2 separate regions of the Homo sapiens genome follow, and region 2 is linked to region 1. A link means that fine-mapping ties the variant in region 1 to the expression of a gene that starts in the linked region. Tissue or cell type: whole blood. Region 1 holds a variant in brackets; the other region holds the start of a gene. All regions are shown on one strand. Distances are from middle to middle.

Region 1 (5,268 bases):
TGACATCAATATTAATGAGACATTTAATAATTAACATACCTATTTTACATGTATAAAGTATGTACCTGATCAAAGGAATGCTCTACTTACTAATATGGTGGTAACACAGAGCCTGAGAACATCAACCTCAGTGATTTTCAACCTGGAATGTGTGTAACAGGCTGTTGCCCCTGTTACCCACCAAAATCCCACCAAAATCCCCTTCTCTCCCAGTGAGAATCATTGCATGCAATGATAACTATTACTGCTGGGAATGTGCTGCATATGTGGTCCCTATAGTGGCAGAACACTGATTTAAGTGATATCATTTATATTCAGCAAAGCTTATTGCTCCAACTAAGTTTTAAAACATTTTAGTAGCCTAAGAGTAAAAATTAGAGCAACAAAAATAATCAAAACCAAAAGTACAACACAAAACACAGATGGATTGAAGTTGAGGCTTGAAGGATGGGTAAGATATGGATCTACTGGACAGTTTTGACATTTTTCTATTGTTCTAAATTTTTGTTTCATTTGTCTCAACACTTGTACCATCTAAGGAATGAAAACTACTATCCTGACTTCTTAAGGAATATCAGAAACACTTACAAAGCACTCCGCAGCATCATCCATAAGGCCAAGTTGAAATCGCTGCTCATCTTTGAAACTTTCTGCAAGAGCATGCCTTATGTTATCTGAGGGAAGTGCTTTTTCTCGACTGTGTTGGAACTGTGCAAATATCGTCTGGGAATCGACAAGAAAATCAGTAAGTTTAATGCCAGCTTTAACGACATTTCAGTAATTTCATTACAACACAGAGAAACTCAAAACACTATACTTGGAAAATAATACAGAAGTCTTTTGCTCTAAAATTTCATACAAAAATTAATTATTTGTATCATCAAGTGTAGAAATGTTTGCACCAGCCTCTAAATCAAATGTTAGCAGACACAAGAATTAAACATGTAGGGTTCCCAGGTCCCACCCTCAGAGGACACTGCTGGTCCTGAGCATTTCAGACAAGAGATACCCAACCTGTATTTCGGAAAATAATACAGAAGTCTTTTGCTCTAAAATTTCATACAAAAATTAATTATTTGTATCATCAAGTGTAGAAATGTTTGCACCAGCCTCTAAATCAAATGTTAGCAGACACAAGAATTAAACATATAGGGTTCCCAGGTCCCACCCTCAGAGGACACTGCTGGTCCTGAGCATTTCAGACAAGAGATACCCAACCTGTATTTCTAATCTAAATTAAGAAACTGGAAACATCATTCAGTTTCTAATCTAAACCTAAGAAACTGGAAATATGAGATTATAGTTGTTAATATGATTTTCAATTTTCCTTATTAAACTTAAGCAAGAAAAAACATTTTAATAAATTCCAATTTTATGACAATCATCTTACATGGAAGAAAGAAAAGTTTTCAATGACAGCCCACCAAAGTAGTATTGGTCACATTCAGTCCCATGTTAGCTCAAAGGGTCATGTCATCTCAAAAAAAAAATATTTTTTTAAGATCAACATACAAAGAAAACATTTCACAAATCTGTTTCACTACAGCAAAAAAATACAATTTATAAATAAAATAAGAAATAAAAAAACAGATGTCATCTGATATTAGATACCCAGAACTATAATTATTTTAGCCATTATAGTAGCTAAAATTATGAATAGTAAAAGATGAAAAATAACTTTCAGATTTTATCTCTTATTTAGGCAATTAACTTCCAGGTAATGTTTAAGATTTTTAATCCTATGCGAGACTGTCACTCATTGATTCAACATATATTTTTTGCCTCCCTCGTATATGTTAGGCATTGTTCTACCCTAGAAAAATGGATGACAACCCTGCCCACATGGAGCCTATATTCTAGTTATAGTAATGAGAAGGCAAAGAAGTAATTATATAACATCAGAATGTGATAAGTACAGTAGAGAAAAATAGATACAAGAGAGAAAAATAAAGCAGTGTAACGGGGATAGGAATGCCAGGGATATTACAGATGGAAGCAGCTTACCTTTTACCTAGGGTAGTCGGGGAAGGCCTCACTAATGGAAAAGTAACATTTGAGGAGAGGCATAAAGGAAATAAGGGTGTTAGCCATGAGGACATCTGGAAGAAAAGCATTCCAGACAAAAGGAATAACAATGAGAAGACTTTGAGGTGGGGATCAGCTCTGAGAAATAGAGCCCAGTTTGGCTAAAATGCAATGTGTTTATGTGTGTTTTTGACAGGGGAGGAGAGGAAGGCAAGCACAGGAAAGAGGCAGGTGACTGTGCAGGGCTACAAGAGAGTTGGTCTAGGAAATTAATAATCCTAGGTTTTACAATTAGACAAAACATTCAAAATTTACTGTGGAATAAATAAAATGTGATACTGTAATGTGATCTAGGTTCATTCTTCAT[G/T]TCCTAACAATAACCCTATTTGGCCATGTTCTTAAAAAAAGAGAATATAAAATTTCTTCCTTTGGTGATTTACTCAAACAGCCTTTTCAGGAACATAATGAAATTAAGGCACATACATTAAAAAAAAAAAATTCTGTGTGTCTATGTGTATGTGTTCATTATGAATATTCAAGAATGTAAAAAAATGAAACATTTATCTCTAAAATGTATAACAAAATCTTAAGTTCTCTGGCAAAACATTTCAGTGACACGAATGAGTTGCTAATATATACTGGATGCTCTGTTTCTTTGTCTTCCTTCTATTTTCCTCAGCAGAGCAGCCACAGGGATCTAGTTCAAATATTATATCTGGTTAAAACAGACTGTATCACTCTTCCACTCAAAACAATGCCCCATCTCCCTAAATCACTCAGAGAAAAAGCCACGATCCTTACAGAGGCCTATAAGGCCCTACACAATCTAAACCCCTGTTATAGTTATTTATTGCTCTGTAAATAAACCACCCCCAAAATTTAGTTACATAAATCTGCAATTTGGGTGGGGACAGCATGTCTCTGCTCCACTCGAAGTCATTTTGGACAGTTTGAATGCTGGGACCTGGAATATCTGAGGGTCGCTCTTTCATGTCTGGCAGTTGATGCTGGCTGTGGGCTGGGAACTCAGCTCTAGCTGTGTCCAGAATGTCTCCACGTGGTCTTGCCGCATGGCCACCTGGCTTCCTCATCATGGTGGCTCACTTCCAAGAATGAGCAACTCAAGAGACAGAGGTGGGTGAGAGTTATATCACCTTTTCTAAACTAACCTAACCTCAGATATCTTGCTTGCAGCCTCAGTTCTGCCATAGTCTATTTGACAGAAATCAGTCATTAAGGCCAGCCTATATTCAAGGAATTAGATTTTGGATAAGGAAGCATGCAAAAGCATCCACAGACATGTTTTAAAGCCACCTCGGCTACCCTCACCTCAGAGCTCACCTTCTACCACTCTCTTCCTTGCTCATAAAGCTCCTGCCATCGCCACCCATATTTCCTTGGTGTTCCTTAAATATATCAGGTATACTCATACCTCAAGGCCTTTGCAGTTGCTGTTTCTTTGTCTACCTGGAAGGCTCTTCAAGGTGTCATTTCAAATATCAGTTTCTCAGTGAGGCTTTCCTGCCTATACAACACTCCCTATTTTCTTTCCCTGATGTATTTTTCCAATGTTACAACTATTACCATCTAACATACTCTATAATATTTTGCTTTCTTATTATTGTCTCCTCCTCTATAAGAATACAAGCTCTATGAGAAGAGGGATTTTTATCAGTTTTGTTCACTGCTGTATCCTCAGTAACTACACTGGTACCCAGAACTCAGTAGTAGCTCCAAAAACATTTGTTAAAATGAATAAGAATAATTGCAAAATAATGAAAAAGATAATGTTCCTAACAATTTTATACTACTTAGAATATTAATTTTTAACTGTCCTTATATAAAAGAGGAAAATGAAAACACAAACCTGAATAAGTCATACTGTTAAGAATTCATCTTCAAAACTGTTAATCACCTGACAGTGAACTTTAGTTACAACAAACTGACCCAATATATCAAACTTAAATTTTTGAAGGAACAATTGATAGTAGTTTTTCAGAGCTATTAAAAGGTTACCTTCAATGCACAAAATATACAGGCATCTCCCTGACAAACATGTCCAGTCAAAACCCGCAAGCTTCGTCGGAATATATCCAATTGCCATAAAACCTAAAAAACAGGGAGATGTTAAGGAAAAAGAAATAAACAAATTTTTCTTACTGTAACAAAAGACAGATTTAGATATTTTACAAATTGCAAAAGGCGAACAAGTAACTTCTTTTAATTGCCTGTACATAATCAGACACACATAACCACTGGAAATAACAGCAAGTATAAAATTGCTACATGCATGTTGTGCATATATAAAAGTTGGATTCAGAAGATACTCTTAATGGTGCACATGAAAAACTATGACAAGCATGGAGCAGGGAAAAACCAACTCCTCATTAAGGATTTGGTCTGAACAGGAAACAAGGAATACTAAATAGAGAAGTTGGCAGAGACATGAAAGAGGAAGTGATTATAATACTTGGAACAAACTGAAATTTTGAAAGGAAATATAATTAGACTTTAAAGCCAGAGTGTACTAAATTGGGGTCTGCACATTATGGCAAGAAAAAGGGGTGAGCAGAGGTGTATGTGGTCACTGTACATGGAACAAGAAAGGGGGCCTGTGTGGTAATGGGGGTACAGCATAGTAAGCAGCAGCCATTAATAAATTACCTAAGTATATACTTGATGCAATTATCCACTTATCTTCTGCTACTAAAAGACAAAGACAAAGCAAAGACAAAGACAAACCAAACCCAAAGACGGCAACTGTCAAAACAAATCAGTCCAATACTTAAAATCATTCTGAAAAACCTGAATTCTAGACAATGAGGATAAGAATAGTACTTGTGTCTCATAGAGTTCTTGTAAGGATTAAATAATATGTAATGTTTCTAGAGCAGGGTATGGTACTCAACTGGCATGCAATGAGTACCAGCTGCTATTTGTGGCTGTTACTACTATTACAACAAACAAATAAGATCTTCAAATTTCTCTTTTAGTCGTGTCCTCAGATAACGTAACTAAGAAAATCTATTCATGATCTCTCCTTTCTCCCAAATAAAAACAAAAAGTTAATAAAAACAAACTGGCTTTAATATTTCCTATATTTTCAACTACTCCACAACTAAAGGTCATTTCAAAATTTCTCTTTAAACGTTGCCTTTTATTAAAGCATAATGAATAGGATCCATTTTTCTGTCACAGATAACTCAGTGTTTTTGCAAAGCACTTGATGATGTTTAATAACTT
Region 2 (5,000 bases), 54 kb before region 1:
ACCCAGAAGATGGAGAAATAACCTGTGGTACCAATCAACAGGGTTGTTGCTAGGACAGGTACTCAACTTGAAAAGGAGGAAAAGACAAAGTTAAGATGAGAAAGAATAATTTAAGATAAACACATATATTTCCAGATGAAAATTACAGTAACCAAATTCTCCACTGTTGGAGAGGTTATTCTATAAAATTAATTTAATTCCTAGGATGATCATGAGGATGCTTTATCACATGGATATACTGGCTTGAGAGCTGCATACGAAAAATTTGCATTATCCCTTAGGTTAAAGCAAAATTCATCATCATCTCCCTCCTGAAAACTTATTGCACTTGAAGTTCAGAAGATCTGTAACGTCTTCTTAAAAACACTTAGCTGTCTTTGGCCTGATGGTTATAGCATTTTCATACACCACCTTCTCCACCCCAGCTCAATCAGATTAATTGTGCTGACAGAATTATGGAAGTGTTGGATCATGGTTGCAGTGCAATGATTCAATCTGTAGTCCCTGGTGCATATTTTTCAGTTGAACATGTGAAGTAGAAAGTTCAAGGTGGTTGGACAAGTGCCGAGGTATTGCATGACTGACAGTGAACCTGGATTTCAGTACAGTACTTTTTAAAATTTAAATTGCTTTGATAATGGCAAATGCCAACTGAGCAAGGTGGCTCATGCCTGTAATCCCAGTACTTTGGGAAGTCGAGGCAGAAGGATCACTTGAGGCCAGTAGTTCAAAATCAGCCATAACACACTCTAAACTCATTTCTGTAATGTGGAATAATCAACAATCAGTGGGACTTTTACAAGGGTAAAGTCGGAAATAGAATCTTTCAACTGAATTTAGTTTAAATAACCCCTCCTTATTTGCACTAGTTGCTCTTCCAAGTCTGGCAGACGTTCCTGACTCTAGAACAGATCATACTGTCAACATCCCCTCATGATGAGCATGTGACTCTGGGCCAAAGACAAGTTTAAAACCATTTCAAGACCTGTTCAGTTTATGTCATGCTTCTTCAACACTAATAATCTCAATAATTTTTTATCAATCCTACTTCAATAACTAGGAGTAATTGATCCTACCTTGTCAGCGAGAAGAATGCTTCCATCTCTGGTAGAGGCAATTGTTTATTTGCCTTTCCTAATTTTTGTAAAGATTCAATGCCACTTAAGCCCAGGGTCTTTTTGTCTACTACCATCAGACAATCTGTATTACAGCACACAATCTAATTAATTCTCAGGTAATGGCCCTCTCATCCCAGAATCTACAAAGCATTTTTCTTGAAAGGTCGTATACTATCTTTGTCTCTAAAACCTGGCAATTGATTTGGAGGCAAATTGGAGCAAGGTTAGGAAGCTATGGAACAGCTTTAAGAGTGCTGGATTTGGAGTTAATTTTAGGCTTTATAATTTTTTTAGTAACCTTAGACAATTCACTCCTTTTGTGTCTCATTTCCTAATTCTATAAGATGGAGTACTGCCCCTTCAAAGAGGTTTTACGACGATTTAATGACTTTGTAAAAACACAACTACAGTCTTATCTCCATTTACTATGCACCAAGAGAACCACTTATATGTCTGGGTGCCCGTTATTTTCTGAACAATTCAGGAATCATAATGTGACAAGAAAGAGAATATTTGAAATTGGACCCACGAGGTAAAATCCAGGCAGTATAGGTCATTTTCTTCCTGCTAGCATTCTGTTCTTGCTGAGGCTCACACTCAAAGTCAAATAACCTTTGGGTTATTCTTCCCACCCCCATTTCCCCCCAGATGGAGTCTCGCTCTGTTGCCCAGGCTGGAGTGCAATAGTGGCACGATCTCAGCTCACTGCAACCTCCGCCTCCCGGGTTCAAGCGATTCTCCTGCCTCAGCCTCCCGAGTAACTGGGATTACAGGCGCCTGCCACCACGCCCGGCTAATTTTTGGATTTTTTTTTTTTTTTTTTTTTTTTTAGTAGAGACGGGATTTCAGCATGTTGGCCAGGCTGGTCTCGAACTCCTTACCTCAGGTGATCCGCCCGCCTCGGCCTCTCAAAGTGCTGGGATTACAGGGGGGCGCGGCCAGGTTATTCTTAAACCCACTCCCTTGAAGTACCTGCAAAATGCTCACGTGCTGCTCTCTGGCCCGTTTGGAAACTCAGTCCCGTGAGTAGGACGTCCACCTCATTGGTGGTGTTTAAATATTAAGTGTCAAATGCTAGAGACAGTACAAAACCCACCAGAGGGGGCCTTCCTAACACGTTGGCATAAGGATCCAAACGGAATACGGGGATAGGAGAGGTGACCTCGTGCAGTTTCAGGGAGGAGTCCATCACCTGACTGGACTGGGCCTTTCAGGGGGACGAGAACGTATTTCTTCCAACGAAACCTGAATAACCAGCTATCTGCCTGGGACGCCGCGAGGCAGAAGTAGGCGGGCCCATTGACTTAGTGTCAAGGCGGAGGCCGCGCTTCATGCCAGCGGTCACGGAGGCAGCGGAAAGCCGAGCCAGGCGCCTGCGCGCTGGGAAGAGTAGGTTCAGAGTGCATTCCGGAACCCGGGGCGCGGCGCACTGCGCAGGCGGCCGGACTCCGCTCAGTTTCCGGTGCGGCGAACACCAAAGTCCGGGAACTTAAGCATTTTCGGTTTCTAGGGTTGTTACGAAGCTGCAGGAGCGAGATGGAGGTGGACGCACCGGGTGTTGATGGTCGAGATGGTCTCCGGGAGCGGCGAGGCTTTAGCGAGGGAGGGAGGCAGAACTTCGATGTGAGGCCTCAGTCTGGGGCAAATGGGCTTCCCAAACACTCCTACTGGTTGGACCTCTGGCTTTTCATCCTTTTCGATGTGGTGGTGTTTCTCTTTGTGTATTTTTTGCCATGGTGAGTATCTCGAATGCAAAATTGGGGTGGTAAGGAGCTTAGAGATCATTTGCTCGCTTTTGGGCGGGGAGGGGACTGAATTCCAGAGAGTTTATATATGTCCAAGATCACACAGCTGGTGAGTGGCGCAGTCGGGTGGGTGGGGGAGAAGGACTAGGAGTAAAATGTCCTTCTTTAGCACGTCCGTGGGAGTCTCCAAAGAAGTGTGGAGAAAACTTGGCGTCATATTTTCTCATGATTTGGAATGAAACCAGCTAGGCTTGAGTTCCTGCAGCACCATGAAGCGACCGGAGAAGTTATTTCGCCTTTTGGAGCTTTATTTTTTCATCTGCCATTTGGGACCATTAGTAACCCAGGTCATAGGGGTGTAGTGAAGATTGAGATCGTAGTGATTTGCATGTTGCCTGGCAGTAGTAAGTGCTCAACGAAAGCTATTTTTACTATACAGCTGTTTAACCATGAGCAGACCACGCAGCTGTCTCAAACTAAACATGTCCAAAACTGAACTCTTAACAGCTTCTTACCCAAATTTACTTGCCTTGCAGCGTTACCATTTCAGTAAACGCCAACTTTATCCACCGTTACCTCCCAGAAACCTGAGACACTTTGCCCTTTTCTTACACACATCCACATATCCTAAAACACCAAGTTACAAAATTCTGTAGAGTTTACTTGTAAAACCCATGCTCTCCATTTTCATCGCCACTCGCTCTGAAAAGACAATTCTGGCAGAGGGTAAAGGAAGGGAACTTAAGAGAATAGGGCAGGAGGAAGCAGACACCAAATGGAGATGGTGTTAAGAGACAAGCTAAGGAGAAGCAGTGAGATGAAACAGGGCTCCTATGGGAGAAGAGCAGTGTAGCCCATCTAGACAGCTCTCCTGGACTTTGGAGTTGATTGTTCACTCACTGTTAACTCCTTAGTCACCATGCCTATGAGTTACTTCTGAAATTCTCACTTCTTGATAGGCAGTCACTTCTTCTACACCCCCAACCCCCATCCTATATTTTCACCAAGATTTGGGTGTCTTAAGCCTCACTGTCTCATTTCTTGGATGGTGTAGTAAGTTAGAGAAGACAGAGAGGGCCAGGCACAGTGGCTCACGCCTGTAGTCCCAGCTACTTGGGAAGCTGAAATAGGAGGATTGCTTGAGCTGGGGAGGTCGAGGCTTCAGTGAGCTGTGAACGTGCCACTATACTCCAGTCTGGGAGACAAAGCAAACCCTGTCTCAAAAAAAGGGGTGGCAGGGGAGCGAGAGGGATTAATGGGAGGATGGCAAAAGGGATAGGGATTTCTATAAAATTCTCTGTCAAGCCATTTGTAAAGGGAGAGTTTTACTCTCCCTCCCTGTTTTGGTAGAGACTGATAATCTCAAATACAGTGGGTTTTGTGTGTGTGTGTGTTTTTATGACCTGAACTTTCAGCTCTGGATAGAAAATAGAGGCCTTACAAGAAATGTTCTAGGCTTTTCTTTTTATCAATATGTAAATAGGCATAAAGTGTTAAAAACTGGGAAGATAAAGCACATATTGCTGACAAATACTTGCTTTTTACAGACTTGTTCGCTGATATCTAAATTAAGAAGTTGGTTCTTGAGTGAATTCTGAAAATGGCTACAAACTTCTTGAATAAAGAAGACAGGACTCTCAATAGAAGAATTTCACATCTCCAAGGGACCCTTCCTTTCATTTTACACTTTGTTACTAATTTGCAGAACTCTATTAATTGGGTAGGATTTCACCCATTCCTAGCTAAGTTCTTAAAATTAAACCCTTTGGTTCGTGTTTAAAAACTTTCAAACATCTGATGGCTTTACAGGGGCTGAATATAAAAGCATTTGTACTTAAAGGTCTTGTGTATTCATTAAGAAATATAGTAATGTCTTTTAATGTTTTAAGAGTTGATCAGGGTTTACTATGATGCAAGTAATAGGATGATTAATAAGGGAAGGTTTTTATGAATTCAAAAGTCAATTATTCAAAAGCAGGGAAAGATTTTGAGAGAGGGAACAAAGTATTCTTAGATTGCGTAGAAGCTGCTAGGTTCCAGTTTTAATTTTTAGGTTTAGTTGGACTCTGTTATGAAAAGATAGGTTATGGGTGGGCGACAGGTTGATACAGTCTTAGAAAAAGCAGGTAATATCAAA

The links. PIP is the estimated chance that this variant, and not a neighbour inherited with it, causes the effect. A credible set is the group of variants that fine-mapping cannot tell apart.
Region 2: ARLN starts here. The variant in region 1 is the best candidate, but not a certain one, in a credible set for the expression of ARLN in whole blood (INTERVAL, PIP 0.72).

What each region holds. Positions count from the first base shown.
Region 1 is chr4:119,244,203-119,249,470 of GRCh38, reverse strand. USP53 (ubiquitin specific peptidase 53) reads right to left here. Exons shown (of 19, transcript NM_001371395.1): 6 at 4,042-4,134; 7 at 589-723. Among named protein-coding and RNA genes, the nearest start is that of USP53, 34 kb to the right of the region's middle. The variant G/T (reference allele first, on the strand shown) is at 2,393.
Region 2 is chr4:119,298,190-119,303,189 of GRCh38, reverse strand. It overlaps ARLN (allregulin), which reads left to right and starts at 2,545. Exons shown (of 2, transcript NM_001001701.4): 1 at 2,545-2,854; 2 at 4,411-5,000. The coding sequence starts at 2,655. The coding sequence ends at 4,411. RefSeq lists enhancers at 2,572-2,801, 2,902-2,951.